2 linked regions of the Homo sapiens genome follow. The protein of the gene in region 1 purifies or fractionates together with the protein of each later gene. This does not show direct contact. Each region holds a gene or a part of one and is shown in the gene's direction. Other genes may lie near its edges.

What was found.
Region 2: the proteins of REG1B (region 1) and NAA25 purify together in Homo sapiens (affinity purification with mass spectrometry; one large-scale study listed by BioGRID and IntAct). This does not show direct contact.

The regions. Positions count from the first base shown.
Region 1 is NC_000002.12:79,085,194-79,089,349, reverse strand, and holds the start of REG1B (lithostathine-1-beta precursor), read left to right. Parts: upstream 1-1,356; 5' UTR 1,357-1,391; intron 1,392-1,691; 5' UTR 1,692-1,737; coding exon 1,738-1,801; intron 1,802-2,419; coding exon 2,420-2,538; intron 2,539-2,845; coding exon 2,846-2,983; intron 2,984-3,746; coding exon 3,747-3,858; intron 3,859-4,066; coding exon 4,067-4,134; 3' UTR 4,135-4,156. UniProt on the Homo sapiens protein: Might act as an inhibitor of spontaneous calcium carbonate precipitation. May be associated with neuronal sprouting in brain, and with brain and pancreas regeneration.
Region 2 is NC_000012.12:112,074,284-112,077,783, reverse strand, and holds part of NAA25 (N-alpha-acetyltransferase 25, NatB auxiliary subunit), read left to right. Parts: intron 1-1,994; coding exon 1,995-2,106; intron 2,107-3,019; coding exon 3,020-3,109; intron 3,110-3,500. UniProt on the Homo sapiens protein: Non-catalytic subunit of the NatB complex which catalyzes acetylation of the N-terminal methionine residues of peptides beginning with Met-Asp, Met-Glu, Met-Asn and Met-Gln. May play a role in normal cell-cycle progression.

The DNA.
Region 1 (4,156 bases):
TAAATATTATTAGTTTGTAAATTTTTGCAACTTTTAAAATTCATTTTGTTTATATATGCTTTTGAAATGAGCTCATGTTTATATAAATATATTTAGTTTATTTAATTTAACTCCTGTTAGTATTTCAAAATATATTATTTTGTCATTTATCCCAATTGATATAGCCATCCTTATTTCTGTGAACATTTTGGTTAGTTTTTCAACTGAATTTTAAATTCCAGATTTGCTCTTGTTCCCTGATTCTGAATGGGTATTTAATGGGAATTTCAGTAAGCTTTTAATTTCACATCACTATCTGTAACTTCACAACAACAGACAATTGACTTCAAACCAACAACTTCATATTCCATTACTTTGAGCTTACTTAGGCATCAGCTCCCTGCAGTTCCCACCTGCTTGGACTTTGAGAACATCTGTATCATGCTAGCTACTTATGCTGAAACCTTGCTGGAAACGCTGGCTTAAATTTACGTAACTACTAAACCTTGTGATGTGGTGTGGCTCTGTGTCCCCACCCAAATCTCATCTCAAATTGTAATCCTCATAATCCCCATGTGTGGATTGAGGAACCTAGTGGGAGGTGATTGGATCACGGGAGTAGTTTCCCCCATGCTGTTCTCTTGATAGTGAGTGCATTCTCACAAGATCTGATGGTTTTATAAAGGGCTCTTCCCTCTCCACTCTCTCTTGCTCACCTGCCACCATGTAAGACATGCTTTGCTTCCCCTTCGTCTCCATGATTGTAAGTTTCCTGAGGCCTCCCCATCCTCAGGAAAGTCTGTGAGTCAATTAAACTATGAGTCAATTAAACCTCTTTCCTTTTTAAGTTACCCAGTCTCTGGTATTATCTTTATAGCAGTATGAAAAGGACTAATACACCTTGCCTTCTGAAGTAGGTCTTGAGAGGTTCCTGAACCTGAAAGGGAATGGAGAAATGACTTAAAGCCACCAGCTAATTGGGCTTAATCATTTGGACTCAGTTGACTCTTCCCCTACCCCTACCCATGCCTAAACCAAAGAAAGGATCATCCCACATTTACCTAGCACAAAGAAATCTACTCTTCTGCTCTTTCTAGGACTGCTAAAGGCCATGGGAACTGGACACCTGGATGCTGCAGAGGAAGAGCAAAGCTCAACATCAACTTGGACAGTTTGCCAACCTGTTTGTGGTAAGTTGATGTCATTTGTGACCACTCCTAATGTGTGCCAGGAATAAGCTATTCCTGATGCCAGAATCTCTTACTGTCAGTGCCCTCTGTAGGCCTTCTGATCCTTACTCCTTGCTCCACCCATTGTTTATATCATGTAGTTCTCTCTCAGACCCTGATATAAAGCTCCTACTCTGTCTGACCTGACAAGCCACCTCAAGTGGACAAGGCACTTACCAACAGGTAAAGGGGCATTACAGGAGAAGAGCATGTCTAACGTGGGATTTTCTCTTTTCATTTTGAGGTAGATACAGGGTGATTTTCTGAATAAAAGATCCCAGTAGTAATGAAACTTAAGCAAGACCAAAGCTGATTTCGGGTAATTTGGCCTCTGTTATCCCCAAACCAAAAGAGAAATATCTGGGAGTGTAGCTATCTCAGTGGACCTTTCGGCTCACAGGAATTCAGAGAGGAGAGGATGTTAGAAAGATAACAGGTGCTCTGCTCTCTTCTTCAAACCCTCTTCCCTGTGTTCTCCTACAGAGATTGCTGATTTGCTCCTTAAGCAAGAGATTCACTGCCGCTAAGCATGGCTCAGACCAACTCGTTCTTCATGCTGATCTCCTCCCTGATGTTCCTGTCTCTGAGCCAAGGTGAGATTTTCCCCCACACTTCCCACAACCCCAACTCTGAATTCTTCCCTCCATCCTCATGTATAAGGTTCACTTGAAAAAAAGCAGAGTCAACATCAGGGTTTTTTTATGTTGTTCAGTGATCATTATGGCTGATTTTATCCCATTCAAAAACACCCTCACCTCATTCATGGGTTTGAGACAGAATTTAATAGGACCACTTATAGGTGACCATTGTGGTTGAGTTTATCTGATTGAATCTATATGCGATGGCAGTTTGGGGGATGTTTTTATGTAGTCATTGCTAGGATGGAGAGCTAAGGCAAACGTGTGCAGGGAAACCGAGAGAAACTTGAGAAAGGAGGAAGCCTGGGTCTTTAAAGGCAGAAGCCTCAGCCTCAGAATTAAAGGAAAACGAGGACTCATTTATTTAGCCTATTCATTGTGAGCTCTTGTCTTGAGCAGAGGAAACTAGAGAGAAAAGAGATAGGATGCAGGAGGGCAGAAGTGAGCAATCGCCCCAGTATTCACTGTATCCATATGTTCTTATAAAGGACACCAAGAAGCCCCTAATTCACCTTCCAGCCTTTTCCTTGCCCTGCGATTCTTTCTTAATTATCTCCTTTTTTTTTTCCCCAGGCCAGGAGTCCCAGACAGAGCTGCCTAATCCCCGAATCAGCTGCCCAGAAGGCACCAATGCCTATCGCTCCTACTGCTACTACTTTAATGAAGACCCTGAGACCTGGGTTGATGCAGATGTGAGTGAGGAGAGCAGCAGGGGAAGGGAGGCTTATGAAGGTAGAGGCAGCTGCTAATTTGCAGTGTGTTCTGTGGCTGCAATGAGATAAGATTGATCCCTTCCCTATTCCACCACTGGTCCCAAACTTCCCAATCTACTTTATCCCATCATTTGACACATTCCCAGCACAGAGATGCTGGTGGTCAGTGACAGCATCATCAGGGACATTTCTGTGCTGTCCTTTTTCTGTTACATCCTCTGGAAGGTCTCAGTATATCCCTCACACCTTCCTTCTCCACTGAGTGCTCCATTTTCTTCTCCAACAGCTCTATTGCCAGAACATGAATTCAGGCAACCTGGTGTCTGTGCTCACCCAGGCGGAGGGTGCCTTCGTGGCCTCACTGATTAAGGAGAGTAGCACTGATGACAGCAATGTCTGGATTGGCCTCCATGACCCAAAAAAGGTCAGTCTGCAGCCACCTCTATCTCCTTATAAACATTTTTGAGAGGTAAGAGGGACGTTTAAGGTCTGGCACCGCAATCACCAACTTTTATCTTTTTGTTTGTTTAAATAAAAGCAACCTCTTTATAGATCCTATAATGTATGAGTTGTGAAGTTCAGTGTAGGTAGTTAGAGACATGAGCTGAAGGCTGAATTTTCTGGGCTCTGGGAATTCATGCACCCACTCATTGTGTCTACTTCTAGAAATGCATCTTTATGTACAACTTTTTCCCTATTTTGCTATTGTCTGTCTTGGAAGAGGTCCCTCTGTAGACTATATAGAAAATGAGTAGTGGAGGAGAATCTACTGCTGGCATTTGTTATACATTTTATACAAGTGTATAAAACTGTACAGTATATTATTTAGTTTAACACTATAAACTAAATAATATATCAACGACTACTCTACAGCCAATGTTATGCTGGATATGAGAGTTCTGAGATTCAGGAAAAAAATCAGAAACCACTCTCTTTAATGGGCTTTTATGGGTCTCTGTATCAAATTCTGAACACTTATTATTTGCTGGAAGAGGAGGAGGAATTCGGACATTCTAGAGAAGGAGAAGCTTAGAGCAAAAGCAGAGGAAATGATATGATATTCATGGTGACAACAATGTTTATTCTTTCTGCTATAACTTGGCCTGTTTCTGAGTGTGCACACAGGCCTGGTTATTCTATTGATTTTTGAGTGACCATGGCCCCTGTTCTGGCCCTTCTCCATCTAGAACCGCCGCTGGCACTGGAGTAGTGGGTCCCTGGTCTCCTACAAGTCCTGGGACACTGGATCCCCGAGCAGTGCTAATGCTGGCTACTGTGCAAGCCTGACTTCATGCTCAGGTGAGAGGCAGACAATCTATCCACCTGTTGCCATTTCCTTCCCACTTATCTCTGGGGATGAACATGGGGACTGGGATAGAGGAAAGGTAAGCTCCTTATCTGGAAAATAAAGAAGTATTTCCTCTAGTTTTTTGTTCTGAGTCCTAGGTTGAGGAGGGGCTACACTCCTTCTGATCCTCTATGTCTGACACTTCTCATTGTACCATAGGATTCAAGAAATGGAAGGATGAATCTTGTGAGAAGAAGTTCTCCTTTGTTTGCAAGTTCAAAAACTAGAGGAAGCTGAAAAATGGATGTC
Region 2 (3,500 bases), on another chromosome or scaffold:
TAAATTAATTAATGCCCCTCTAGTCAGGATTTGTACTCTGTAGATACCGCAAACATTCCTTCTTTATTTGTATGTCTGTCTTATGAAGGCATTTGAGTTTGTGACCTCTGCTGTGCATACTCTTATACCCATACTTTATTTTTATTATTTATTTATTTATTTTAAAGAGATGAGGTCTCACTGTTTTGCCCAGGCTGGACTTGAACTCCTGGGCTCAAGTGATTCTCCCATCTCAGCCTCCCAAGTAGCTAGGACGACGGGCACACACCACCACACTGGGCTCCATTATTTCTTTCTTTCTTTTTTTTTTTGGAGACAGAGTCTCACTCTGTGGCCAGGCTAGAGTGCAGTGGTGCGATCTCGGCTCACTGCAACCTCTGCCTCCTGGGTTCAAGTGATTCTCCTGCCTCAGCCTCGTGAGTAGCTGGGACTACAGGCACACACCACCACGCCCAGCTAATTTTTGTATTTTTAGTAGAGACGGGGTTTCAACATGTTGGCCAGGCTGGTTTCAAACTCCTAACCTCAAGTGATCTGCCTGCCTCTGCCTCCCAAAGTGCTGGGATTACAGGTGTGAGCCACCACGCCTGGCCTCCATTATTTTATTATTATTATTATTATTTTAACTAAATAGTATTTCCTAGAGATAAAGTTCACTACCTCACTCCTTTAATAACTGTCCAGTGTTCCACAGTGTGAATGTAGAAATTTACTTAACCAGTTTTTGATGGATATTTAGGCTACTCACAAGAAACTTCTTGTTTTTTTTTGTTGTTGTTGTTGTTTTTGAGACAGGGCCTTGCTCTGTTAGCCAGGCTAGAATGCAGTGGCATCATCACAGCTCACTGCAGCCTTGATCTCCTGGGTTTAAGTTATCCTCTCACCACAGCCTCCTAAATAGTTAGGACTCCAGGCGTATGCCATCAAACCTGGCTAATTTTTATATTTTTTGTAGAGGTGGGGTCTCAATATGTTGCCCAGGCTGGTCTCGAACTCCTGGTCTCAAGCGATCTGCCTGCTTCAGCCTCCCAAAGTGCTGGGATTACTACAGGTGTGACCTGTCAGGCCTGGCCCTTTTTTTTTTTTAAACTACATTATAGCTCTATGGATAGTAAAAAGTTAGATTCTCAACAGGAAATTCATAATGTAATTTTTGGTATCCTTAATCTGCTAAACAGTTGGGCAAATCTAATTTGGTCAGAACTATCATCCTAGTTTTTTTGTTTTCAGTTGTTTGGAAAGATTTGATTCCTCTCCACTCTTTTTTGTCTTCTTCCAACATCTCATCTTTCTTAGCTCATGTCAGCTCAGTCCTCTTTGATGTTTTGGAACTGTATGGATGGGCAGCTTGTCTATGGACTAAATTTACTAGTCCCTAGATGCTGTTGGGATTTTATAAGTATATCCCATGTACTATTAATAGATGTTCAACCCAATACATTGTGAAACCTATCCTTTTACAAAGAAAATGATTATAAAAATTTACTGTCAGTAATGTACTTTTTTCTTTGAAGTAAAATAATCTTTAATAAGATAGTAGTAGTTTGTATGTAATAGTGGTCCCATTTTCTAAGAGAGTGAATAAGAAAATGTGACATTTAGGCCGGGCCCGGTAGCTCACAGCTGTAATCCCAGCACTCTGGGAGGCTGGGATGGGTGGATCACCTGAGGTCAGGAGTTTAAGACCAGCCTGGCCAACATGGTGAAATCCTGTCTCTACTAAAAATACAAAAATTAGCCAGGCGTGGTGGCAGATGCCTGTAATCCCAGCTACTTGGGAGGCTGAGACAGGAGAATCGCTTGAATCCAGGAGGTGGAGGTTGCAGTGAGCCAAGATCGTGCCATTGCACTCCAGCCTGGGTGACAAGAGTGAAACTCCATCTCAAAAAAAAAGAAAAGAAAATGTGACATTTTCCTTCTTGTGGTTGGACTCTATTCTGGTTATTGAGCAGAAATGAAACCAGCTTACCAACTTTTATAACTTTTGATTTTAGAGAAGTTGACAAGTGAGATTCAGAGTCGGGAAAATAAATGCATGGCTATGTACAAGAAGCTGAGCAGGTGGCCAGAGTGCAATGCCCTTTCCCGGCGCCTCTTACTAAAAAAGTGAGTAAAAGCTTTCTTTTGTACCATTTGACTGTAGTGAGGCTTTAAGACCTCACTATTGATTTTCTTGGTGTCTGTGTTTTGAAGTTTCTGGGCATAAAGTCTTCTTATAGTAGTTGTGTCCTGCATGTTTCTAAAAGTTTTTAAGGAGCCTTCATCTTTCAGTAGAGTATTATAATGGTACTTGTAGGCTGGGCATGGTGGCTCATGCCTATGATCCCAGCACTTTGAGAGGCCAAGGTGGGCAGATCACTTGAGGTCAGGAGTTTGAGACCAGCCTGGCCAACATGGCGAAACCCTGTCTTTACTGAAAATACAAAAATTAGCTAGTTGTGGTGGTGCGTGCCTGTAGTCCCAGCCCCTCGGGAAGCTGAGGCACAAGAATCGCTTGAACCTGGGAGGCAGAGGTTGCAGTGAGCTGAGATCATGCCACTGCACTCCAGCCTGGGTGACAACAATGAGACTCCATCTCAAAAAAAAAAAAAAGATACTTGTGCCACCATGGTGCTGAATTCTAGTTAGGGCTTAAGAATGAACACTGAAAATCATTAATTTCTCAAATTCAGTATTCCCCTAAAAGAGAGAGGCTTCATTCTTTGCTACAACACTTCTCTCCCCTTCCCTCTATTTTGGAAGTGCTTATGTGGGGACTTTTCTGTTATGAATATTAGTTTTCTAGACCTGGTCATTTTATTGAAGGAAAGAGTAGTTTACTACTCTTTACAAATACAAAGTAGTATTACTTTGAAAATGCCCTTTTAGATTTGCAAAGGAAACATGGAGTGGGTGGGGGTAAGCCAACCTACTACATACTAAAATATAACTTACAAAATAAATTGAATATCATGGTTCCTAAGGAAGATCTGTCACAACTTGGGTTTAATCCTGTGTGCATCATTCAATCTGATTTTAGCTCAGATGACTGGCAGTTCTATCTGACTTATTTCGATTCTGTCTTTCGACTGATTGAAGAGGCCTGGAGTCCTCCTGCTGAAGGTGAACAGTAAGTTGTCTTCTTTCCTGAATTATAACAGCACTTTTTAATATAGTGTAGTGAAAGGATTTCATTATAAGCCAATTGAATTCTCTTTTTCTGTCTCAATAAAGTATTCCTTTCAAAGTAAGACATTTTTTCATATTTTTTAAAGTATAAAATACACAAGTTCATTCTAAAAATCATGTTAGTGCCAAAATATGTGGTGTGCTAATTTCCACTTATCCTACCATTCCAAAAATAACTCTTGTTAATAGTTTGGTGCCTTTCCGTGAGATTTATTTCCATCTTTATGCTAAGATAATTTTTCTTTTTCTCCTTTTTTTTTTTTTTTTTTTTTTTGAGATGGAGTTTGGCTCTTGTCACCCAGGCTGGAGTGCAATGGCACGATCTTGGCTCA